3 separate regions of the Homo sapiens genome follow, and regions 1 and 3 are each linked to region 2. Evidence: fine-mapped expression QTL. A gene starts in region 2. Each other region holds a variant in brackets. All regions are shown on one strand. Distances are from middle to middle.

Region 1 (8,000 bases), 56 kb after region 2:
TAGTGAAATCCAAGCGTGCCCTGGGAGGTGGCCCCTGGGGGAGACCCCTGTTTCAGTGGCCCCTGGGGGAGACCCCTGTTTCAGCCGTTGTCGGGGTCAGGCCTCCAGTAAGCACAGTGGGCGCCTTCTAGGACCCCTCCTGCCACCCCGTCACCATAGACTCATTCTCCCTGTGGTGGAAGTTTCAATTACATTGAATATGCCCGTTATTTGGGAGGGTTTAACATCTGGGCCTGGTCACCCGCCCCTCAGCAGAACCTCCCGTGCCCTCTGAAGAGCCGTGGAGACTGGAGGGAGCTGGAGGTGCTCTCAAGGAGACTGGACGACAGGCAGACCCCCTGGACGGCAGTGCTGGGCCCTCCCTGGGCAGGTGGTGTCACCCAGTGAGTTTTGGAATCAGCCCGCACAGCCCTCTCCTCCTTCCACCGCCCACAGAAGCCCGCTGGTGCCAGGGGCTCCCAGCAGCCCCTCCCGGCCAGGAGGATTGGGGGGTGCCTTGCTTGAGGATGGCAGCCTGGGCTTCTGTCATTCATAACCCACAGGAGTCCTCTTGAGGGAGGAGCATGGTGCCCTGGAGAGCCCTGGACAAGACCTGGGCCTGGCTCCATCCAAGCCCAGCGGCCTCTGCCCCTCCTGAGCGTGAGGATAGAGCAGGTGCCGTCTGCCCTCGACTCGGCCCAGAGGAAACCCCACTCCCACGGCCTCGCCGAGTTCTGCCTATTTCTGGCAGCTTCGCAGGCCCTTCGGGAAGGCACTTGTGTTGCCAGGGGTCGTGGGGGTCAGGGTCATGCTGTGTCCTCAAGACGCTGTGTCCCCTGCCTCGGGGCCCCCCCGCCTCTTCCTCTTATGGCCTCTGCACCGCAGTCAGCCCACCGAGATGTGCAGCCTCGTCCCACGGAGGGTGCCGGGTGGGGAGGCCAGTGCGGACGGGCACTCAGGCCCACTCAGAGGCCAGTCACGGAGCCCCCGTGTCCAGAGGCGAACAGGAGCCAGGGGGCACATGGGCCTTGCAGTCAGCAGCTCAGAGCCCGGAGAGGGGTCTCTACCCACGCATGGCACAGAGGCTTCTGTGCCTCACTGAGACCCTGCCAGGGCCTGGAGGAGGACCTGTTCGAGTGAGGATCCCAGGGGCCAGGGCTGGGATCGCTGTTCCAGGCTTCTAAATAGCCCAAAGTAGACGGGGCTCTTCATCCTTTATTCAGATATTTTAGTCACAAGACTATTGTTCCGGTAAATACTTTATGTTGTTAGAAGACGCTGTGTGCCTAGCAAAATTTTTAGGCCCCTTTGAATGTTTTGCGTTGGGACGACTAAAAGGCTGAGGTTGGGAGCCTTGAGAGCCGCACTTCCTCCAATTCTCCCGCAGGGTCTCCTTCCCCAACAGGCCCTGGGCTTTATTGCTGGGACGGGGTTGCTTTCGCTGGACCATGCACCGGGGCTGTCGCCATCACCTGTTCCACGTTATTTCAGTGAGGCCGACCTGTAGTTGAGTAAAACGCCGTGATGACGTGGGAAAGAGAAGAGCGCCCAGCCTGGGTGGACGCGGCCAGTACCAGCACAGCCCTGGCCTCTCCAGGACGTCTTCTGTCTGGGTTGGTGCCAGGAGCTTTGCTCAGTGGAGCCCTGGGCCCTCGTCCTCACCCGTGGCTGCCTTCATTCCTTCCTCCGCCCTCTTCACTGGGCGCTGAGCTGAGCTGCTGAGCGCCTGGGAGACGCCCGCTGCTGTGTTGAGCAGTACATGAGGCCAGCCCCGCCTGAGGGCCCTCCCCAGGATGCCTGCAGGGAGGAGCAGTGCTGGGTGGGGTCTGTGGAGACCTCCCCATGCCCTCACAGCTCCTCCTGGGTACAGGGGTGTGGCTCCGGGTGCTGCGGGCAGCCCCGACAGCTCGCTGTCAGCACTTGGAGACCCTGTGTGGGCCTCCAGGGAAGCCTGGGCATCCTAACCCTCGGTCAGGGCTGGGCCTGTGCTCACCCTGAGGGTGCAGCTTCCCTCCATGGCCCAGAAGGGCTGCCGTGGGCGTGGGAGTCATGACGCTTTGGATCAGGGCCTTTGTTTTTGTTACTCACTGCCTGATCCCTGGAGTTGGAAATCAGGTTTTGCGGTGTTATGCTGTTTACATTAAATGTGTTTAAGTGCTGCCTTTTACTCCTGTTAGTTGAGTTTTCAGAGCCGATGCGAGGTGCTGTGTTGGCTGTCTTCATCAGTCTGCCGGCTGGTGAACACACCGCATATGTTTTAGAGGCATGGTCTGTGGGAAAAGTGGTCATGAGAACTGTTACTTATTTGGCTGTTAGGATGAAACCAGTTTACTTTTCTTTTAATTCATTTATTCATCCATGCATGCAACAGATAATTAGGTACTTACTGTATACCACAGACAGCTTTGTCTTTTTATATGAACGTCTCTGTGCACCAGAAAAAAAAGAGAAAACGTGTTTCCTCTAAGAGAGACAGAACAGGCACCTTTGGTGAAGGTAACTGAATGAACTGTTTGGGGTGCGGTGGAGAAGAAACAGTTGCTTGGGAGCTGGGGCAGCCCCCGTCCCGCTCAGCTGTGGGGCTGCAGGGAGAGGCTCGGTCCTGGTGCATGTGGCACACACGGCGAGGCCCCGGGGCGACGTGGCCAGGCCGTGCTGCAGCAGCCCCAGCCCTCCTGGTCTGAGCAGCTCATTGGATGTTGGTGCGTCCAGCAGGCTCCCTGGTGTTGCTGTCGTCATAGCAACCAGGATGTTTCTCAGGAGTTTTTTTTTTTTTTTTCTGTTTCAATGCTTTATTAACAGTTGGAAACAAAACCAGTGCCTTGGAGGTGATGGCATCAGAAGCCTGAGGCAGGGAAATGGGCTTGCATTTTGTCCCCCCACTTTTTTTTTTATTAAATGCATCATAGCAAAAGTAGATTAAAAAGAAAGAGTCTCAGCCCCAGATGACAGTGAGCAAGGAGAAGGAGGTAAAGACGGGGCCATCGGGCGGGGAGGGAGGAACCTGGTGTGTTTTGGGGCCAGGGGACTGGGCATCATCGGGCAGGGAGGGAGGAACCCGGTGCCTTGGTGCCAGTGCGGGGGAACTGGGCATCGTTGGGCAGGGAGGGAGGGAGGGATGAATCCGGTGCGTTGGTGCCAGTGTGGGGGGACTGGGCATTGTCGGGCAGGGAGGAAGGATGAATCCGGTGCATTGGTGCCAGTGCGGTGGGACTGGGCATCGTCGGGCAGGGAGGGAGGGATGAATCCGGTGCGTTGGTGCCAGTGTGGGGGGACTGGGCATCATTGAGTGGGGAGGGAGGAAGGGATGAATCCGGTGTGTTGGTGCCAGTGTGGGGGGACTGGGCATCGTCAGGCAGGGACGGAGGGATGAATTGGGTGCGTTGGTGCCAGTGCGGTAGGACTGGGCATCGTCAGGCAGGGATGGAGGAACCTGGTGCGTTGGTGCCAGTGCGGTGGGACTGGGCATCATCAGGCAGGGAGGGATGAATCTGGTGTGTTGGCGCCAGCGCAGGGGGATCCGGCCTTTTCATGTCGTACGGCGTCTGTCTTACAGGGACTCCACAGAAAGCTTGTGTGTTTCCGTCCTGCAGTGTCCGCCTTCGGAAGACCCAGCTGTTACTGCTGTGATTTGAGGCCCTGTGGGAACAAATCTCAGTTCCGTATTATCCACAAACACCATCTCCCACAGGACTTTCAAAAGCTTTTTTCTCTCTCCTTTTAAGAAACACAGGAACTTACAGCTAAATATCTACACTCATTTGTTGCAAAAAACAAAGAAATCCCAGAAAACAAAACAAAAACAAAAAACTCCCAAAGACAAAAACAAAAAACCCAGTAAAATCCCAAGGGAAATATGGTCAGCGTCAGGTCACACTGTAAAGGTGTCAGAAGGAAAGTCAGCAAAGTCAAGCTGTGTTTGAGGGTAAGGACTTCTATCTGCTGCAGAAGCCGTCAGTTCCAAAACAGGGCCGGGAGGCTGGAGGGGCCCCTGTCCGACTTGCTGGGTGTGCTGCGGCTGCCCTCAAATTCAGGGGCAGCCGCGGCCACCAGGAAGGCTGCGTCTGCTCCGGGAACCTCAACTGCCATCCCCCAGGCTCCCTTCCCTCTCTGGAGAAGCTCGCCGGCCATGTTCTCCCCTTCGTGCCTGTGAACTCATCACACACCCTGCCTGCGTGTGCCGCGTGTGTGTGCGTGTGCTGCCTGCGTGTGCTGCGTGTGTGTGCGGTGCTGCCTGCGTGCGTGTGCTGCGTGTGTGCGCTGCGTGTGTGCGTGTGCTGCGTGTGGGATCTTCACATCGGTGGGAGCCTTCGGAAA[G/AG]CCTGTCTTCTGACATGGGATGACCGACCTGAGGCCTGGCCTGGAGCCAGGTGCCTCGTAGCAGCCTAGCTGTGTTCTCCCATGCAGCGGGTGAAGAAGGCGCATCCCGGGAGAGTCGCCGTGTTGAGGTGTTCTGAGGGTCCAGTGCCTATCAGGAAATACTCATTTTTTCCCACCAACCGATTATCATTGATGCTTCCTTAATGATTCCCAAAATAAAAATTTCCAGAACCTTTTGAATTAGAGGCGTCTCAGAGCCGGAGGAGCCTTCGAGAGCTGCTGTGTCTCTTGCTTTTGCAGTTCAGGACTTTGAGGCCCAGAGAGGTAGACTGTGTGTTGGGGGCACTGGCGGGAAACGGCCGCAAGCAGTGAGACCCTGAGAGCTGCTCCGTGTGGGCAGCAGCGGGTGCTGCTGGGAACGCCTGCCGGCGCCTCCACACGCAGAGATACGCGGCGCCGACACGGGAGGCTTCGTCCTGCCGGCGCCTCCACACCCAGAGATACGCGGCGCCGACACGGGAGGCTTCGTCCTGCCGGCGCCTCCACACGCAGAGATACGCGGCGCGGACACGGGAGGCTTCGTCCTGCCGGCGCCTCCACACGTAGAGATACGCGGCGCCGACACGGGAGGCTTCGTCCTGCCGGCGCCTCCACACGCAGAGATACGCGGCGCGGACACGGGAGGCTTCGTCCTGCCGGCGCCTCCACACCCAGAGATACGCGGCGCCGACACGGGCGGCTTCGTCCTGCCGGCGCCTCCACACGCAGAGATACGCGGTGCGGACACGGGAGGCTTCGTCCTGCCGGCGCCTCCACACGCAGAGATACGCGGTGCGGACACGGGAGGCTTCGTCCTGCCGGCGCCTCCACACGCAGAGATACGCGGCGCGGACACGGGAGGCTTCGTCCTGCCGGCGCCTCCACACCCAGAGATACGCGGCGCCGACACGGGAGGCTTCGTCCTGCCGGTGCCTCCACACGCAGAGATACGCGGCGCGGACACGGGAGGCGTTGTCCAGACCCTGGGGCTTCTGCTCCTTCTCACAGTGCCTCAGGTTAATATTGTGGATGAAAAGTCTTTAAAAAGCTTCAAACTGAGTTTATCTCTGCCCTTTGGAGTTGCTGGCATGCCAGTTTGCAAACTGGCATCTTTGAAATGAGCCGACTGCCCCATGTGAGCCATGACGTGTGCGCTTGCTGAGTTGACGCGAAACATTCAGCGCGGAGTGGCGGAAGTGGGGTTCTGAGAAACTTCTACTCTGCTCCCGTTTTTGATTTTGTTTGTTTCAACAAGAATAAGGTGATGTGGCCCTGAGTGGCGCCAGCAGGAGCCTTGGTGTGGTCTCAGCGTGGTGCCTGTGCCTGCATCTGTCCTCTCATCCTGCGTCGTGGAGACGCCACTGCCAGGCGTCTTTAGAGCCAAATGACGGAGGCAGAAAAGGCCCTGGGGAGGCGCGAGTGTGTTTGAGGCGTTTTTTTTACAGAATGGACTTAAACTGGGCATCCGCTGTCTGGATTGACAGCTGTCACTCATCCCTTCCTGCTCACTCCCTATTCTCCAGTAAACTGGGCCGTTAGGCTTGCCGCTGGGGCATGCTCCGAGCTTCCAGCAGAGAAGTCGCAGCTGGGGTTCAGTTATGACCTCCAGACTGACCCCTGGCAAACAAGGAGTCCGGGATCACGGGCGTTTTCTGCAGGGCCAGCCAGGAACTGGCCCCACTTCCTTCAAGCACGTCCAGGTGGCGTCTCTGTGGGCTTGAAGGAGGGAGAGGTGGACCTAGCTTAGGTCCCTCTGGGACGCTTCTCTTTACTGGCAATTCGAACAGCTGGAGTTTACAGTTAACTCACGTCCACAAGAAAGAGCTCTTTCCTTTAATTCTGGCTCCAACTTTGACCTAATATAAAATAAAATTCAAAATAAAAAGGGACTCAGTGGATAAATGAATAAGCAAGACGAGGTCCCTTTGCATCATGGAAGTTATTCAACCTTAAAATAGAAGGGAATCCAGTCAGCGGCCACAGCAGGGGCCACCCTGGAGGACATTTGCTGAGTAGAGTGAGCCGGGCTGAAAGGACACGTCCTGTGGATCCCGCCGACGTGAGGCCCCAGAGTAGTCAGATCCACAGAGACAGAAAGTGGGGTGAGGGCCACTGGGAGACAGCAGGAGGGGGATGGGAGTGAGTGTTGAATGGGGACCGAGTCTCCGTTTGGGAAGACGAGAGTGTTCCAGAGAGGACGGTGGTGATGGTTGCACAACTCGGTGAACGTGGTTAATGCCACAGAACTGTGCACGCGAGCAGGTCAGAGATGGAAAATTGTATGTTAAAAATTAAAATAAAGGGACTAATGCAGGTAAACAAGACACAGCAATCCTGAGTCCCAGGCTGGCAGGTCCCTGCTTGCGGGACTTGCATTAGAGGGTGGCGTGCATGTCCCTCGCCTTTCGGCAGTACACATGGGGTGCACATCCACATTTTGACTTGTGGTGGCAAAAAAACCAAGGCTTTATAGAGAGCTAGTGAATGCACACAAGCAAAGGCTGGAAACGTGTCTGCGATGTAGCAGGGAACAAACATTTCTACGCTGCTGATGATGTATGTCGCTTTTACTTTTTAGGTGAAGCCAAAAACCTTCCCTCTTACCCGGGGCCGAGCAAGATGAGGGATTGCTACTGCACGGTGAACCTGGACCAGGAGGAGGTTTTCAGGACCAAAATTGTGGAAAAGTCACTCTGGTAATGTCTTCTGTTGCTTTACTTGGCACTGATGTGTTTTCTTTGGTGTAGAGAATGTCCCAAGGGTGTACGTCACCTTCCCATTTTCCCATGTGTGGAGAACGTCCCGAGCGTGTACGTCACCATCCCGTTTTCCCGCATGTAGGGAATTTTTCTGTGCGTAGACAATGTCCCGAGCGTGTACGTCACCGTCCCGTTTTCCTGCGTGTAGGGAATTTTTCTGTGTGTAGACAGTGTCCCAAGCATGTACATCACCGTCCCATTTTCCCATGTGTAGGGAATTTTTCTGTGCGTAGACAATGTCCCGAGCGTGTACGTCACCGTCCCATTTTCCCGCGTGTAGGGAATTTTTCTGTGTGTAGACAGTGTCCCAAGCATGTACATCACCGTCCCATTTTCCCATGTGTAGGGAATTTTTCTGTGCGTAGACAATGTCCCGAGCGTGTACATCACCGTCCCGTTTTCCCGCGTGTAGGGAATTTTTCTGTGCGTAGACAATGTCCCGAGCGTGTACGTCACCGTCCCGTTTTCCTGCGTGTAGGGAATTTTTCTGTGTGTAGACAGTGTCCCAAGCATGTACATCACCGTCCCATTTTCCCATGTGTAGAGAATGTCCTGAGCGTGTACATCACTGTCCCATTTTCCCGCGTGTAGAGAATTTTTCTGTGTGTAGACAATGTCCCGAGCGTGGACATCACCGTCCCATTTTCCCGCGTGTAGGGAATTTTTCTATGTGTAGACAATGTCCCAAGTGTGTATATCACCGTCCCATTTTCCCATGTGTAGAGAATGTCCTGAGCGTGTACATCACTGTCCCATTTTCCCGCGTGTAGAGAATTTTTCTGTGTGTAGACAGTGTCCCGAGCGTGTACGTCACCATCCTATTTTCCCGCGTGTAGAGAATTTTTCTGTATGTAGATTATGTCCTGAGCATGTACATCACCTTCCCATTTTCCTCCTGCTTAGTTT
Region 2 (8,000 bases):
GGCGTGTGACCTCTAGTGAGCAAAAGGTCGCGTGCCTCCATTTTGAATTCAGGCCCAGTGAGCCCCTTGGGATGCACCTGGCAGGATGGGCTCTTTCAGGTTCAGATACCTGATTCCACCGTTCTTCCTTCAGTTCTTACTTTGAACCCTCCAAAAATTATTCCGTTGTGTACTGGTCATTTATGTGGCTTCAAATCCTTTGAAAGTAGATTGTTCAGACATGATCTAATAATGCTGTTTTGGAAATGAATGAATGTCCACTTGTCAATGGGTTGATATGTGAACAGAAGAGTATATCCAAAGAGAGCAAAGTGTAACACCAAGGTCATTGAAAGAAGAAATTATAGAGATTTTCTATTGGGTCATCATCTGATCCTTTCTTCTCTCAGTATTTTATTTCCCAGCTCATATTATCACAGCTCTAAGAGACAACTTTCTAATTTAGAAAACGAATGACCAAATCCTTCATTTAGAACACAAATGTGAGAAGGCCGGTGCTTGGGCAGCTCTGCGGGGCTGTGTTTTGTTGCGGGAGCCCTGGATGTATGCTCAGCCCCTGTGCCTCTCAGAGGGCTGGGGGCCCCACATACAGATACCTTGCTCCGATGTGCCTGGATAAGCACTGAGGGTGGGTTTTAGGGACCGACTGGGGAGAGATGCACGTGGGGTCTGAGTCGACCGTCTGTGGGGCACTCTGGTCATGCCCAGCATCCATTTGTGCAGCACAAACTTTTTCTCTGGGACTGTCCGCCCCCCAGGTTCTTGTGGTATCGTAAAGACGACCACAGTTTCGAGATGTAGGAGTGAAATGGACCGAGGCTAACCCAGTGAAGTTTGCGGCTGGGTTAAGGAGTGAGTCAGGGAGATGCGTGTTTTCTCCATCATGACTGGGAGAGGAGTGCTCATTTGCCGGGAGGTGAGGGTGACTGTGCACCTCAGCCGCCAGCAGGAGCACCAGAGAAGCCCTGCTCCAGCCCTGCTGACGTCTGGGCCTGGGCCACCAGCCGGTGCAGTGAGCCTGGACCCCAGGAGTGCCTTTTCCAATCCTGACAGACAGCTGCTTAATGTGGGACATTGCTTTACTTTACGAGTTGAAAACGCCACCCTAGCAGCACGGAGCACCTCCCAGGGGCTAAACCCTGTATCATGACTGAATGCGCCCATGTCAATGAATTCTAACATCTAACTCTACATTCTGCCTCCCCTGAATCCAACGTTCTTTGGATCTAGTTCTGCATTTACCCCTGGCTCATGCTGGTGCATGCATTTTGGTCCTGAAGCTCCTTGGCCGACTGTCTCTTCCTCAGTTTTTAGCCTCAGCACTTCTCCAGCTTGATGATGCTGACCTGGAGGAGCTGAGCTGGAGGTGGGTGGCAGGCGTGTCGCCTTGCAGAGGTCTCTGCAGTGTCTTCAAGCACAGAAACAGCATTTGTCCTTAACAGACAGAAATGTGACACCTCTTCAGGCCCAGCAGATTTAGAGGAATCTGGGATTCAAGATTTTTGAGTGCATTCATTCAGATGGCCCCATCGCAAGCCTCTCTTCTTCCCAGTCAGGGCCTCTCTTCTTCCCAGTCAGGGTCCAGAGCTTGGAACAGCACCTTCCGAGGCCGAGCACCCGAACCTGGAACAACACCTTCTGAGGCCAAGCACCTGGCCTTCTCTGGAGCTCTGCCTTCTACACGGTTAAGTCCTGGCCCTGATCCAGTGTTTTGGTTTTCCTCTGGTCACAGGAGATGAGTGTCTTATGTGGCACTGAGGAGGCCCGTTAGCGTGCCACCCTTTTGTTTCAGGTGGTGATCTTTTCATTATCTTGCCCTCAACACGAGCCACCTGATTCCATAGTCCATGTATCTGTGACTTTCCCGAACTCTCCAGCACCCGAGATCCTGCCGCTGCCAGTGCATTTCCTTCCAAGGGGCTCCCGTCCTGGCTGCCACTGCTGCAGTCTGGAGATTCACTCCTGACCCCAGCTGTCGCCTGGAAACAAACACCAAAGCGAGATCCGCGTTGAGTTTATCAGCAGGCCTGTGAGGGTGGAGGGATGGCAGAGAAGCAGCTTTGTGGCTGGGCTGCCACAGAGGACTCCACTGGTCCTCGGAGAAACACAGGAGCCGGCTTGCTTCCAGTGGCTCCAAACGGAAGCATAGTCTCCGTCGTAAAGCAGGGGTGTGGATGGCGTCCACAGCACCCACTGCAGACGCCACCCAGGGCCAGCGCTAGACGCAGAGGCTCTGGGTTGGAACCAGGGGTGCCGCCTTAACCTCCTGTTCTGCCCCAGTGAGCACCAGGCTTGCAAGGGCTGAGGATGAGAGAGGCCCCTGTGGCTGCAGGCTCCCAGCAGTCAGGGGAAGAAAGGCCATTCATTCTTTCAACGCATGGAACTGCTTTTTAGGAAGTGAAGGTAAGCAGTGGAAAAAAATAGGCCTCTATCTTCATGAAGCTCCTGTTCCTCTCCATGCAGTGTGTGTGTGTTTGTGTATGTTCACGTAGGTGTGTGTATGTATGTTTAGTGTGTATGTCTGTGCATGTGTATGGGTAGTATATGTGTGTGCTGTCTGTGTTGTGTGTATATGAACATATGTGTTCATGTGTATATGTGGTGTGTGTATGTAGGGTGTGTGTATATGTGTGTATATGTATGTGTGTACACGTGTGTAGTATGTGTGTGGTGTCTGTGTGTGGTGTCTATGTGTATGTATATGTATATGTAGTGTATGTGTGGTATATGTATGTGTGTATATATGTGTAGGGTGTGTGTGTGGCACTGGGTGCAATGAAGTTTTGCAACATAGAGGAGGGAGTGTAGTCTCAGTTCATATACACACCTACAGTTCATACACACACACAAACATACTCCTCAGAGAGGAGGTCAGGGAGGAGGAGACCTCGAGACAGAAGAAAGGGAGGTAAGGGTGGTACCTGCCCATGCTGGGGTCTGCAGGGGGACTGGGGGGGGACCTGCCCATGCCGGGGTCTGCAGGGGGACTTGGGGGGGGACCTGCCCATGCTGGGGTCTGCAAGGGGACTTGGGGGGGGACCTGCCCATGCCGGGGTCTGCAGGGGGACTTGGGGGGGGGACCTGCTCATGCCGGGGTCTGCAGGGGGACTGGGGGGGGACCTGCTCATGCCGGGGTCTGCAGGGGGACTGGGGGGGGACCTGCCCATGCCGGGGTCTGCAGGGGAACTGGGGGGGGACCTGCCCATGCCGGGGTCTGCAGGGGGACTTGGGGGGGGGACCTGCCCATGCCGGGGTCTGCAGGGGGACTGGGGGGGGACCTGCCCATGCCGGGGTCTGCAGGGGACTGGGGGGGGACCTGCCCATGCTGGGGTCTGCAGGGGGACTTGGGGGGGGGACCTGCTCATGCTGGGGTCTGCAGGGGGACTGGGGGGGGACCTGCTCATGCTGGGGTCTGCAGGGGGACTGGGTGGGGGAGACCTGCCGGTGCCGGGGTCTGCAGGGGGACTGGGGGGGGACCTGCCCGTGCCGGGGTCTGCAGGGGGACTGGGGGGGGACCTGCCCATGCCGGGGTCTGCAGGGGGACTGGGGGGGACCTGCCCATGCCGGGGTCTGCAGGGGGACTGGGGGGGGAGACCTGCCCATGCCGGGGTCTGCAGGGGGACTGGGGGGGGGAGACCTGCCCATGCCGGGGTCTGCAGGGGGACTGGGGGGGGGGAGACCTGCCCATGCTGGGGTCTGCAGGGGGACTTGGGGGGGGGACCTGCCCATGCCGGAGGTCTGGGGTGGGGGGCTGTGTGTGCGTGTATGTGTCCCCGCCCCCCTCGTGCGTCTGCAGCAGGTGCCTTCGGATCGCATCTCAGGAGCTGGGGCTGGGCGCGGGATTCCTCCCCTGCCAGATCGTTGTACGTGAACTTCTCTTGGCAAAGTTCGTCCGCGAGTCAATCGCTCAGCCTCGCTCAGCGGGCCCGGGCCGCGCCGGCGACCTTCCTTCGTCTCTTCCGCCAGGCAGCCCGCTGGGGTCCCTTCCGCTCAGCGGCCAATCCGCGGGGCGGGGGCGGGGGCCGAGGCCTCGGGGGAAGCCGATCCCTGCGCCCCCCGGGTCTCCGCCACCCGCCAGCGCCGTCCCTGCCAACCCCGCCCCTGCAGGGCCCGGGCCAGTTGGGAGCAGGGGCCGGGCCGCGGGCGGAGCCTCCCGGTCCCCGCCCTCGCCCTCGGCCAACTGGCGGTCTTGCAGGCGGGCGGACCCTCGGCCGCGCTCGGGGCTCCGGCGCCGCCGCTCCTCCTGCTCGGCCTGAGCTGCCCGGGCTCGGCGCGCGCTTGGGGCGAGGCTCGGCGGGCGCGGACGCGCAGCATGGCGGTGGAGGACGAGGGGCTCCGGGTCTTCCAGAGCGTGAAGATCAAGATCGGTGAGTGTCCGCCGGCAGCCACGCGTCCGACCCCCCGGCCCGACCCTGTCCTCTCCCGCGCCCGCCTCCCCTCCGCAGATCCTTGCTGGGGACCCCGGCGGAGACGCCCTCCAGGCGCGGCGCGCTCCCCGGAGAACGGCTGGTCCGGCTCCGCGGCCCCTCCCCACCTCCCCGCCTCCCCGGGCCTCGGGCTGGGTCGAGTCGGCTCCGGGGTAACGCGGCTCCCTGCGCCTCCTCTGCGCCCGGAGCGGCCCCGGTCCCTGGTAGCGGCGGAGGAGGTGGGGTCCCTGCGCCGAGGGACGTCTGTCCGCGTGTGCGCCCGAGCGTGTGCCCCGCGTGTTTGCAGGAGTGCGCGCGCCTGAGGCTGTCTGGGCGCCTGCACTTCAGGTGTCAAATCCACTGACGTCGGGGTCTCGGCATCTCCCTTTCTCCGCTGCGCCCAGAAACTTCCTTTCCGGGGAATGTGGAGGCTCCTTCACGCTTCTCCCCAGGGGCGTGAGGCCCCGGCGCGCTGCTGCTGCTGTGCGCGCGCGTCTGTGCCTGCGTGCGCGCGTGTTTGTGTGTGCTTGTGTTTGTGTGTCCATGTGTGGGCGGTGTGTGTGCGCGTGCGTTTGTGGGTGCATGTGTGGGTGCGTATTTGTGTGTGGATGCATGTGTGCGCGCGTGTGTATTTGTGTGTGGGCGCGTGTGTGTGCGCGCGTTTGTGTGTGTGCATGTGTGCGTGTGTGCTGGTGGGGCGTTCTGGCTGAGGGCTCCCGCGGGGCGGGGAGACCCCGGACCCATCGGCACCACGTCCCTTTCCACTGAGAAGTGGCGGGCGAGCTGGTGGCGACCAGGGCCTGCGAGGCTGCGGTTTTTCTCTGGGCTTCAGCAGCTTCTGAAGTGGGCTCCCGGAGGCGTTTCCGGAGAGGAGGCTGTGTCTGGACTTCTGGTTTATCTGGAGGGATCTGCTTTTCCCTGGTTGTTTTATCTTGGGAGAGTGATGTGGAAGTCCTCCCCCTCCCCCAGAGCAAGACCGTTTCCTGGAGTGACTGTTCCATATTCATGCCATGAGTGTGCTGGACCACAGCGCGGTTCAGGCTGGAGAGGCTTCCAGGGCCTGCAGTGTCGCGGTCCCCACGGTCCTTCTCCCCCACTGAGCCGCACTTCGCAGCCGGCCTCTTCCCGTGTGAAGAGGCCTCCGGGAACGGGCTGAGTGTCAGTTGTTGATGACATTTGATGCTGCCGGAGGCATTCCAGCTCCCCTAAACCAGCGGGCTGTTTCCTGTCGGCTTTATTTTGGTTTGCGGATCATCGCTGAGACACTGTCTTGATATTTGGCCCAGAAGCGCTGCAGCTAGGATGTGGCAGCACTTCCGCTTTGAGTAGTCCAGAGAGGAGGGATTTCTTTTGTTAATGTGGTTTAAATCCGCTGTCACTTTCATACAAGAAAGCCAGAGCTGGCGCTCCCTGAAGTGCCTGAGGTCGCCTTGCCTGGGTGGGGAAAGGTCGCGGCCCGTGGGGGTCAGTTTGCTGCTCTTTCCTTCAGCCAAGGCTGCTTGGCTCAGCCAGCGAGTCTGAGGAGTGTGAGAAGCACTGGGCTTCCTCAGTCACGGGGGCAGGAGGGCTGGAGGTGGGTGCCCCTGTGGGGCAGTGCCAGGTCTCCAGGCAGCAGGCAGAGGCGGCCTGGGGCTTTGCGGCTCGGGGGTGGGGGGCCCACAGCCGGCACAGCATGCTCGCTGTGTACTCCAGGAAGGGCTACACTTCAGGCCACGGCAGGACTTTACAGAAGGCATGGGAAGTAGAACAGGAGGGCGAGGGAAGACCAGAGTCTCAGACCAGATACTCAGACCCTGAGTCTCCCAGAAGGCAGCTTCACCGGCCTGCGGGCACTCGGCCCCACTTCCGACAGGCGTGGGGGTCAGGCACCCTGGAGGATCCCTCGGAGAGAAGGAGGTTTGGAGATGCCACAACTTGGTCAGGCTCTGTGCTCCACTTTAAACAAGCCAGTGAAACCCTGGCTCAGCTGAGGCTTAGGCTGCTAATCCCACGTGGGGCCTGGATATCATCTGAACCTTTGACCCTCCCAGGGGCAGCAGCAGTGAGGACGGGTAGAGAGGCCCAAATGCCAGCTGCCCGACTCTCTGGATGTGGCTCCAGCAAGAAGTCCCCGTTTCCTCTCCCCTCCAGAGGTCACCTGCAGGGCTGGCTGCCTGAGGGGTATCTGTGCCCCAAGTAGCTGGGGAGACAGGGCACCTCCTGCATTTGAGCAGAGATGCAGTCTGGGCTGGAGACCCTGAGGGTGACCTGTGGGTGCGCTGGTTTGGGGTTAGTCTCATGTAACTGTGCTGCTGGCCTGATACCCCGGGGCTCCAGCAGAAAGCCCATCTGTAGAAGCGAAGTGGAGGATGACCCTGAGCGGCGCTGGTGCCAGGGGGCCACTGAGCCCCTCAGGCTCTTTCTTTAATCCACATTCATGGCCAACCTTGGCTCTGACTTGCCCTGCCTGAGTCCCTGGTCTTGAAGGCTCAGACAAGATGGTGCCCCTGTGGTTGATTTGAGGGCCCCTCGCTGTCATTCACCTCTGAGCCTTGTCTCCAGGAGCGCTGGATTTGCCCATGAGTCTGCCAGTGACTTGCTGCATGACCCAGGGCCCGTGTCTTCCCCTTCATAACCTCATTTTTCCGTTTGCAAAAGCCAGGCAATTATTGTCTACTACATCCGGTGGGAACGTACAAGGCAGTGTTGTTCAGGGTTAAGTTAACACCCTGCCCCCTCACTCCCAGAACAAGAATTGTCCCTAAAGTTATACCATAAGCAATTCTGCTACTACTCTTACTAAGAAAAAAAGCCAGCACATTTCTGGGGGGATTGGGAGCTTTTTTTAAGGTATAGGGGCATTGGCCATTTAAATTCTTAAATAGCTTTGAAATGTGTGGTGGTGTGTGGCCTCATTCAGACGTTGACATTGGGAAAAATGGAAAGAATCTCTTCCTCCTTTCCCCCTTCCTCTTTCTTTGTCCTTCCAGCTCTTGCAGGTGAGGTAATAAGAGGAGAGCGCCACGTAGAAGTGAGGTGCTTTGGTGGTAACAATTTGGAGTCTTTGTCTTGAAGAATCTGGCTTTCTGCATTTCAGTTTTGTGGAATCATTTTGGATATGTCCTTCTGTGCACTTAAACATCTTAAACACTGTGTCTTTTGAAACAGTCATTAACCTTTCACAGTAGAGTCTGTGTATCATGCATGACTGAGCCACACTTCCTATGCGATCGCTGCTTTGAGGAAGCCTGTGCTTCGGACTTTCCATGAGTCAGGGACCCACAGGGAGGGCACTTCCGCCACGGCCACGGCGTTGTTTTGGGGCCCCCGCCCCCAAGGCGTGCAGTGCCTCCTCCCCTCGCAGTGATGTCTTCCGTTTCCACAATACTTACTGCTTGTTTTTAAATGTGGCGCCTTATCTTGATACATGTGTTCAATAAAGAGCAACACACAAGGTGTTTCTCTCAATCTGTTACAGAAAAAAAAAAAGCCAGCCCCGCGGTCCAGGGCGGGAAAGGCTCTCGCACCGCGGTGACCCTGCCGTCGAGCTGGAGGCGGTCAGCGTCCGGGAATGCCGTCCGTGGGAGGCCGGGCCTGCCGTGGGCTCCCCGCTGG
Region 3 (8,000 bases), 98 kb after region 2:
GCCAGCTCCCTCATCGGATTGTTGCCAACGTCCTTTGCAGGCCTCAGTTTTCCCATCTGGGTGGGTTTGTGAAGCGTGCTGGTATGGCGTGTGTGCCACTCGAAGGCACCTGGCGCATCGTAAATTGGTGGCTGTGATGGTTATTTTTACACCTGGAGGCTGGCATCCTGGACAAATCCCCAAAATAGGTTCCTTGTGAGGACTTCGCCTGAGACTTCAGCAGAGGCAACTGGGTGGGTCGGATGGAGGCTCTGTGCCCGCAAGTTCAGGGCAAATTTGGGCTGGGGGACTGGATGGCCTGGTGTCCTCTGGGAACCCTTGTCCCCCGGCAACCCTCATCCTCCTGGAACCCTCATCCCTCGGGAACCCTCGTCCTCTGGGAACCCTCGTCCTCTGGGAACCGTCTTGCCCTGGCAACCCTCATCCTCTGCGCTTCACTGGGTCAAGGTTGCCATTTGCCAAGGTCATGAGCTGTGCACACGCCCATGGCCAGCAAAGGGTTCATTCATGAAGTTGACCATGAGCCCAGCTGTGGGGGTGGGGTGAGGCCCTTGACGGAAATTAAGGAGTGGAGCCAAGAAGCCCTGGGGATGGCCCTGCCCCAAGGGACCTGTGCTAATTGTGCGTCACACTTAATTAACTCTGCTTCCTGGGAAAGCACTGGCTGGGGAACCCACACGTGCTGTGGAAAGTGAAGGACGCTGTGATTACTGCAGAACTAATGACTGTCCTCGCATCCCCGGAGCACAAGGGCCCCAGCGTGCTGCTCCCACGGACCTTGGCGTCCCGGCAGAAAGGCGGGGTTTCCCACGTGCTGCCCGGGAGACGGGGCTTGGTGACTGGGCCGCTCCCGCCTGCGTGTCGGCGAGTTCCCCAGCTCTTCTATTCTGGGATACCCGCCGTCGCTGGGGTCTCCGTCACAACGGCCTCTGAGCAGCTGGCAGAGTGCGGCCTCGTCGTTTGCCTCGGATTCAAGTTTGGTTTTATTGGCAGGTGTAGCTTTTCCTCTTTCTTGCCTTTTTTTTTTTTTTACTGATTTAATTTTGAAATGGTTATAGATCTATAGGAAGGCATCAAAACAGTACACAGGAGTGGCGAGGGGCGAATTCCCACCTTTCCCTGAAAACGGAAGGCCGTGCTCCCTTCTCCCGGCTCCCCCGAACGGAAGGCCGTGCTCCCTTCTCCCGGCTCCCCCGAACGGACGGCCGTGCTCCCTTCTCCTGGCTTCCCCAAACAGAAGGCTGTGCTCCCTTCTCCCGGCTTCCCCAGGCACTGCCATGCGCAGCTGGTGCAACGTCAACCAGGACGCCGACGTTTGTGCAGTCCACGGATGTTATCCAGATTTCACCAGTTCACAGGCACGTGTTTCTGTGTGTGTCTCTCTGTGTATTCTATGCTATTTTTTCCAGTTTTTTATGTGGTAAAACAGAGACATGAAATTTACCATTTTAACCATTTAAAATGTCCAATTCAGTGGTATAGCATTGAATATATTCATAATATTGTATAACCGTCACCACCACCCATCTCTAGAGCTCCTTTCATCTTGCAAAACGGAACCTCCGTCCCCTCTGTCCCCTGGCTAGAGTTTTATTCACACGCTCCCGTCCGCCCCTTCCCCACCGGCAGCCCCATGGCACTCTGTCTCTGACGCAGGCCACTCCCCGTGGCTCATGGGAGTGAGCTCTACCCTGCTGGTCTTTCTGAGGCTAATGTCGCTCTGCGTGACATCCTCCGGGTCGCTTGTGGTATCAGAACCTCCTTCCTTCCAAGGCTGAGGAATGGTCCGAGGTGCGAAGCGTGTGCTGTTGCTCCAGTCACCTGCCGATGGGCTGTTGTGACAGTCGGTGCAACTTCATCACAGGGTAGATAGTGTAACCACCATGACGATCAGGACTCAGACGTTGCATCTCCACAAAGCTGTAAATAAGAATGCCGCAGGTTGATCTCACAGCTGGTGGAATCTCATAATTAACGCCCGAGGCTGCGTACCCGTGGCCAAGCCCAGCGTCCTCCAAGCCTGACTCTCACTGTCCGGAACATGAGGATCCTGAACCGAGTGGTGTCAGTCTCCCGGGAATTTGCACTTTATGGAAGGCAAATGCGAGCTGTTGTCTAAAAGGGAGGAGGCAAGGTCATTGCTCTCCAATGCCCGCTGCTCTCCAATGCGTTGCTTCACTGATGCAGTCAGCCCCAACGCCGCCCAAAACGTAGCGTGACAGGGAGCAGTGGCCCTGCTGGACTCCAGCCAACCTTTAAAACCTCAACTCCAGGCTGGGCGCGGTGGCTCATGCTTGTAATTCCAGCACTTTGGGAGGCCGAGGCGGGTGGATCACCTGAGGTCAGGTGTTTGAGACCAGCCTGACCAACATGGTGAAACCCCGTCTCTACTGAAAATACAAAATTAGCCGGGCGTGGTGGCGCATGCCTGTAATCCCAGCTACTCCGGAGGTTGAGGCAGGAGAATCGCTTGAACCCGGGAGGCGGAGGTTGCTGTGAGCTGAGATCGCGCCATTGCACTCCAGCCTGGGCAACAAGAGTGAAACTCCATCTCAAAAAAAGAAGAAGAAGAAGAAAAAAAACCCCACAACTCCAGTCTCAGGAGCCGCCGTTTCATCATAAGATGTCACAGTGACCATTTTCAGGAAGGCAGGGGGTAGCCATGTGGCTCCATGAGTCCCTCCGCTCTGTGATTCCCAGGAACAGTCCTGTGTCCGGACAGCGAGTGTCACAGAAGCAGCCCATGGGGGAGGCCAGCAAGTGAGTCACAGAAATGGGGGAAACACAATTAAACCTTTCTTGCTTCCTTCTGGAACGGCCACTGTTGGAAAGTCTTTGTTAAATCACTTTATTATGCAGAGTTGTGCTCTCTGACCCTCCCCTGATGCAGGGCCAGCGGGGGAGACGCCAGCGTCAGATGCCAGTGGGGGAGATGCCAGCGTCAGATGCCAGCGAGGGCACCGCCTGTGACAGCGAGGCATCCGCGGTGATCTGGGCGCCTGGGGGTCACTGAGCTCCGTTTATAAACCAGGCTTTCAAGTGCATCTGTGACGTATTCAGAAAATAGCACAGCCCTGCAGGGGATCACAGCAAACCCCTGGGTCTGCCATCCGCCCAAGAGACACCTACGTGTTTCCCCCTTGGAGCCTTCCAGTTGCACCGTGAAATCTCACTGGGCTGGAAATTCCAGCCTCCTGCTACAGCCTCTGGGAATTTTGTGTTTGTGCAGCAGACAGTCCTCTTGGAAGGATTTTCGGAGCAAACAAAGTCACCGTCCGTCGTCAAGCTTTCACATCTCTCCAGGGTTGTAAGAGGAGACGGCCGAGGCTGGGCTTCCTTCCTCATGGCCTCTGCATCCTGTCTCATCTGCCCGCGGACTTCGTCTCCTCTCTGCGGCCGGCGTGGAACAGTCCTGCATCCAAGGCACCTCTGTCCTGGCTGCTCTCTGGGCCGCTGCCCGCTCAGTGGGGGACACGGCAACCGGTGGGTGGGGCCAGGACCCTGACCCGGCTCTGCGCGCTGCTCTCTCCCTGGGGAAG[G/A]CCTTCCTGAGAAAGATGGATAGGGACCATTGGCTGCTTTTTAAAAATTAATTAACTCTGTTTTGGGGGCAGTTCTGTGTTCACAGGGAAATTGAGCAGAGTACAGAGTTTCCATACACCCCTCAGCAGCCCCCGCCCAGGGCCCCATGGGTGACACTGCAGCCACACGTTGTCAGGAGCTGGACGCTGGGGCCCCTTTGCTGCGTCTGTGAGTTCGCAGGAGTGCAGCGCCAGGGACCTCAGTGCAGCGTCCAGGCAGGTGCCAGGGTCGGCAGCCAGGTCCTCTCGTTCCTTTCCTGTGGGAATTTGTGCCTTTTCCCTTTTGCTCTTAGTAGCCTGGTTTGAGGTTTATTAATTTTATTGATCTCTCAAGGAATTTGCCGTTGGCTTTGATTTTTACCTATTGGTTTCCGATCTGACTTCTGTTTTCTGTTCTTGGGCTCTGGGTTTAGTTTACTCATTTTTCTCAGTCTCCCAGCTCTAAGCTCAGGTCAGCGTTCAGATCTCCCTTCTGCTCTAAGCTCAGGTCAGCGTTCAGATCTCCCTTCTGCTCTAAGCTCAGGTCAGCGTTCAGCTCTCCCTTCTGCTCTAAGCTCAGGTCAGCGTTCAGATCTCCCTTCTGCTCTAAGCTCAGGTCAGCGTTCAGATCTCCCTTCTGCTCTAAGCTCAGGTCAGCGTTCAGATCTCCCTTCTGCTCTAGTCTGTGTGGCCGGCACTCCAGATTCCCCTCCACCCCGAGCACGGCTCCCGCTTCATCCCACTGATTTTGATGAGTAACACTTTCATTTCTGTTTATTCCGGAACATTTTAAAATTTGTCTTGCGTTCTCTGATCTGTGTGTTATTTAGAACTGTGTTGTTTAACCTCTAAATGTCTGGGATTCTCCAGCCTGCGCCAGCACCTGCAGATTTACTCATTGGCTTTTCTGGCAGGAGAAAGGGCCTTCCAGGGGTGGGTTTTGTTTGTTCCCACTCCTGAATCAGCAGAAGACGAAAGCACACAAGTCAGCTGGTCAGGAGGGATTCATGCTGCAGGAACAGGAGCAGCCTCAGGACCTGATGGTGACCAGCCAGGTGCCCCTGGACCCGGCCAGGAGCCGGGAGAGCACACGGGGGCCGCACAGCCTGCTGCCAGGGGCCGGGAGAGCACACGGGGGCCACACAGCCTGCTGCTGGGGACCAGGACCCCCCACATGCAGTCGTGACTCTTCCTGAAGCTCCCGAATGTGAATAGAGCTACCTCCGTCTGCACAGCCTTGCAAATCTGAACGCTTCTGTCCTGAGAGAGTTTGCGCCCGGCATTTGAGAACGGGGATGAAGCAGTGGGGATTCTTGGTTATTCTTGGGTCAGGCACTTTCTCCTGTCTTTGGTGGTCAGGCCACTCCTTTAGCCCGTGGATAGCCACGGATAGCAGGCCCAGTGCCCGGCTGGTGTTCAGGGCACTCCTTTAGCCCGTGGATAGCCACGGATAGCAGGCCCACTGCCCGGCTGGTGTTCAGGGCACTCCTTTAGCCCATGGATAGCCACGGATAGCAGGCCCGCTGCCAGGCGGTGAGGACCACAGGCGATACTCCGCTCAGCCCTGAGCTCTGATGGGTGTGGGAAGAGGAGCTGTGGTCTTGGTGGGGTCTTTGTTGTCATTTTAGGCACCTGTTTTCCCCGCCCACAGTGCTGGCGTGGGGTTCATGCCCACCTTCCCGGCCCAACATCCTTGTGGCCCCTCAGGACCTGCTCTGGGGCTGCAGCCACAGGGCGGGAAGGCCACACCCAACCTCCAGACCCCAGAGTCTCAGGACAGCAGCGGAGGCCCCACCTCCCACACCTGCCTGGGCAGCACAGACCCAGTTCCATTCCCCCTGTGAGCGCTGGGTCAAGTGTGGGGGTGCCGTGGGGCGTGGTGTCAGTGTGGGGGTGCCGTGGAACGTGGTGTCAAGTGTGGGGGTTCCGTGGGGCGTGGTGTCAAGTGTGGGGGTGCCGTGGAACGTGGTATGAAGTGTGGGGTGCCGTGGAACGTGGTGTCAGTGCGGGGGTGCCGTGGGGCGTGGTGTCAGTGTGGGGGTGCCGTGGGGCGTGGTGTCAGTGTGGGGGTGCCGTGGGGCGTGGTGTCAGTGTGGGGGTGCCGTGGGGCGTGGTGTCAGTGTGGGGGTGCCGTGGAACATGGTATGAAGTGTGGGGGTGCCATGGAACGTGGTGTCAAGTGTAGGGGTGCTGTGGGGTGTGGTGTCAGTGTGGGGGTGCCGTGGAACGTGGTATCAAGTGTGGGGGTGCCGTGGGGCGTGTTGTCAGTGTGGGGGTGCCATGGAACGTGGTGTCAAGTGTGGGGGTGCCGTGGAACGTGGTGTCAAGTGTGGGGGTGCTGTGGGGCGTGGTGTCAGTGTGGGGGTGCCGTGGGGCGTGGTGTCAGTGTGGGGGTGCCGTGGGGTGTGGTGTCAGTGCGGGGGTTCCGTGGAACGTGGTGTCAAGTGTGGGGGTGCTGTGGGGCATGGTATCAAGTGTGGGGGTGCTGTGGGGTGTGGTGTCAGTGTGGGGGTGCCGTGGAACGTGGTATCAAGTGTGGGGGTGCCGTGGAACATGGTATCAAGTGTGGGGGTGCTTTGGGGTGTGGTGTCAGTGTGGGGGTGCCGTGGAACGTGGTGTCAAGTGTGGGGGTGCTGTGGGGCATGGTATCAAGTGTGGGGGTGCTGTGGGGTGTGGTGTCAGTGTGGGGGTGCCGTGGAACGTGGTATCAAGTGTGGGGGTGCCGTGGGGCGTGGTGTCAGTGTGGGGGTGCCGTGGGGCGTGGTGTCAGTGTGGGGGTGCCGTGGGGCGTGGTGTCAGTGTGGGGGTGCCATGGAACGTGGTGTCAAGTGTAGGGGTGCCGTGGGACGTGTTGTCAGTGTGGGGGTGCCGTGGAACGTGGTGCCAAGTGTGGGGGTGCCGTGGGGCATAGTATCAAGTGTGGGGGTGCCGTGGGGCTGCACCGACGCGGTGTCAAGTGAGGGCTGAAGGGCTTTATGTTCCACTCCCTGACCAGGGGCTTCGGGGTGTGCACCCTGGCAGGGCAGGCTGCGCCCACGACCCAGGCACCCCGAGGGTTCACAGGCAAGGGTTTCAGAAGGTGGGGAGGCTGAGGTTGTGGCAAAGTCATAAATCAGTACATGGAGGCCGTATGTCAGTTTGACCTGAGAAGGCAGACATCACGACGTGTGGCCCATGGGTCGGATATAGAGCGTTTTTGATTTGTGATTGGTTAAGGAGGAGAAGCTTTGTCCAAACAATTGAGATCAGCAGAAAAGAATGTTGGCTCTGGCCCACAGGCATGACCCCTCCTGGCCCCTGAGGAAGAAATTCAGAATAGAGCCGGGTTCAGGGTTCGGGCCTGTGATCCCCCCTGCATTTGTGGTCTGTGTTGGTAGATCTGTTTGGTGAGGGTCTCGGTTTTTGAAAAACAATTTAGGGACATATGTTAAGATGCTATTTTTAACTTGTATAGGGAATAAATATCTCCTGACTAATTTTTTGGCTATTATTTTATTATTTATTTTGCTTGTTAGGTGATTTACCACTCAAGGCTGGCTAGGTGTCTGATATATTTTTGAAGGAACTCGAAGGTTTTTTAATCATTTAGGTGGGTGGGGCCTAAGCGAGGTCCCTGCTCCATCCGAGGTTCTGCACCAGGCCACGTGCTGCAGGGCTGCTGTCGGTTCTGCCGTCCACGTCTTAGCGCCAGGCATTCTGCCCGTCTGTCCCACCCTCCCACAGGCAGGGACAAGCCCTGGGGAACACGCCTTGGCCTTCCCGGAGCCTCAGGAGCTAGAGCTAAGGGCCGGGCCAGGCAGAGCCCCTGAAGCATGGATGAGTCTGTGTTTATCCCATCCATTCATTGCCATTCAGGCTGGAGCAAATACAGGGACAGCGGCACACACAGGTAGGCACACATAGCCGCACACACACACAGGTGGACACAGTCACACATACACACAGGCGGTGCACACACAGGCAGACATGCACACACAGTCGCATGTACAGACAGGCGGACAAACACACATACACAGGTGGACACACAGCCACGCGCACAGACAGGCAGACACAGTCGCGCACACACACAGAAGGACATGCACACAGCCACACACTACAGACAGGTAGACACACACAGAGTTGCATGCACATACAGGCAGATGCACACACAGCTGCTTGCACACAGACAGACATGCACACATAGTCGCACACACACACAGAAGGACACACACAGCCAAACACACAGACAGGCAGATGCACATACAGACAGGCAGACACCGACAGGCAGACACACACAGTTTCATGCAAACACAGGCAGACACACAGCCGTGTGCACACAGACGGACACGCACACACAATCGCACGCCCACACAGACACATAGCCACATGCACAGACAGGCAGACACACACAGCTGCATGCACACACAGGCGAACATGCACACAGGTGGACACATACAAGCAGAT

Which allele goes with the higher level. Alleles are on the strand shown, and positions count from the first base shown. SD is a standard deviation of normalised expression in the study named. Not every link is listed here.
As copies of G replace A in region 3, the expression in tibial nerve of the gene that starts at base 4,179 in region 2 goes up (small effect, 0.28 SD a copy in GTEx).

What was found. PIP is the estimated chance that this variant, and not a neighbour inherited with it, causes the effect.
Region 1: its variant is fine-mapped to the expression of RASA3 in testis (GTEx, PIP 0.97).
Region 3: its variant is fine-mapped to the expression of RASA3 in tibial nerve (GTEx, PIP 0.95).

What each region holds. Positions count from the first base shown.
Region 1 is chr13:114,072,751-114,080,750 of GRCh38, reverse strand. It overlaps RASA3 (RAS p21 protein activator 3), which reads left to right. Exons shown (of 24, transcript NM_007368.4): 2 at 6,914-7,031. Among named protein-coding and RNA genes, the nearest start is that of RASA3-IT1, 33 kb to the left of the region's middle. RefSeq lists an enhancer at 6,461-7,660. The variant G/AG (reference allele first, on the strand shown) is at 4,297.
Region 2 is chr13:114,128,802-114,136,801 of GRCh38, reverse strand. It overlaps RASA3 (RAS p21 protein activator 3), which reads left to right and starts at 4,179. Exons shown (of 24, transcript NM_007368.4): 1 at 4,179-4,367. The coding sequence starts at 4,313. LOC107987192 (a long non-coding RNA gene) reads left to right here and starts at 5,799. Exons shown (of 2, transcript XR_001750050.2): 1 at 5,799-8,000. RefSeq lists enhancers at 1,658-2,158, 1,988-2,167, 4,456-5,083, 5,254-5,753, 6,044-6,303 and 1 more and silencers at 3,874-3,973, 4,004-4,663.
Region 3 is chr13:114,031,109-114,039,108 of GRCh38, reverse strand. All of the region lies in intron 4 of RASA3 (RAS p21 protein activator 3), which reads left to right. Among named protein-coding and RNA genes, the nearest start is that of C13orf46, 61 kb to the right of the region's middle. RefSeq lists enhancers at 1,720-2,919, 2,850-3,418, 6,977-7,918. The variant G/A (reference allele first, on the strand shown) is at 3,540.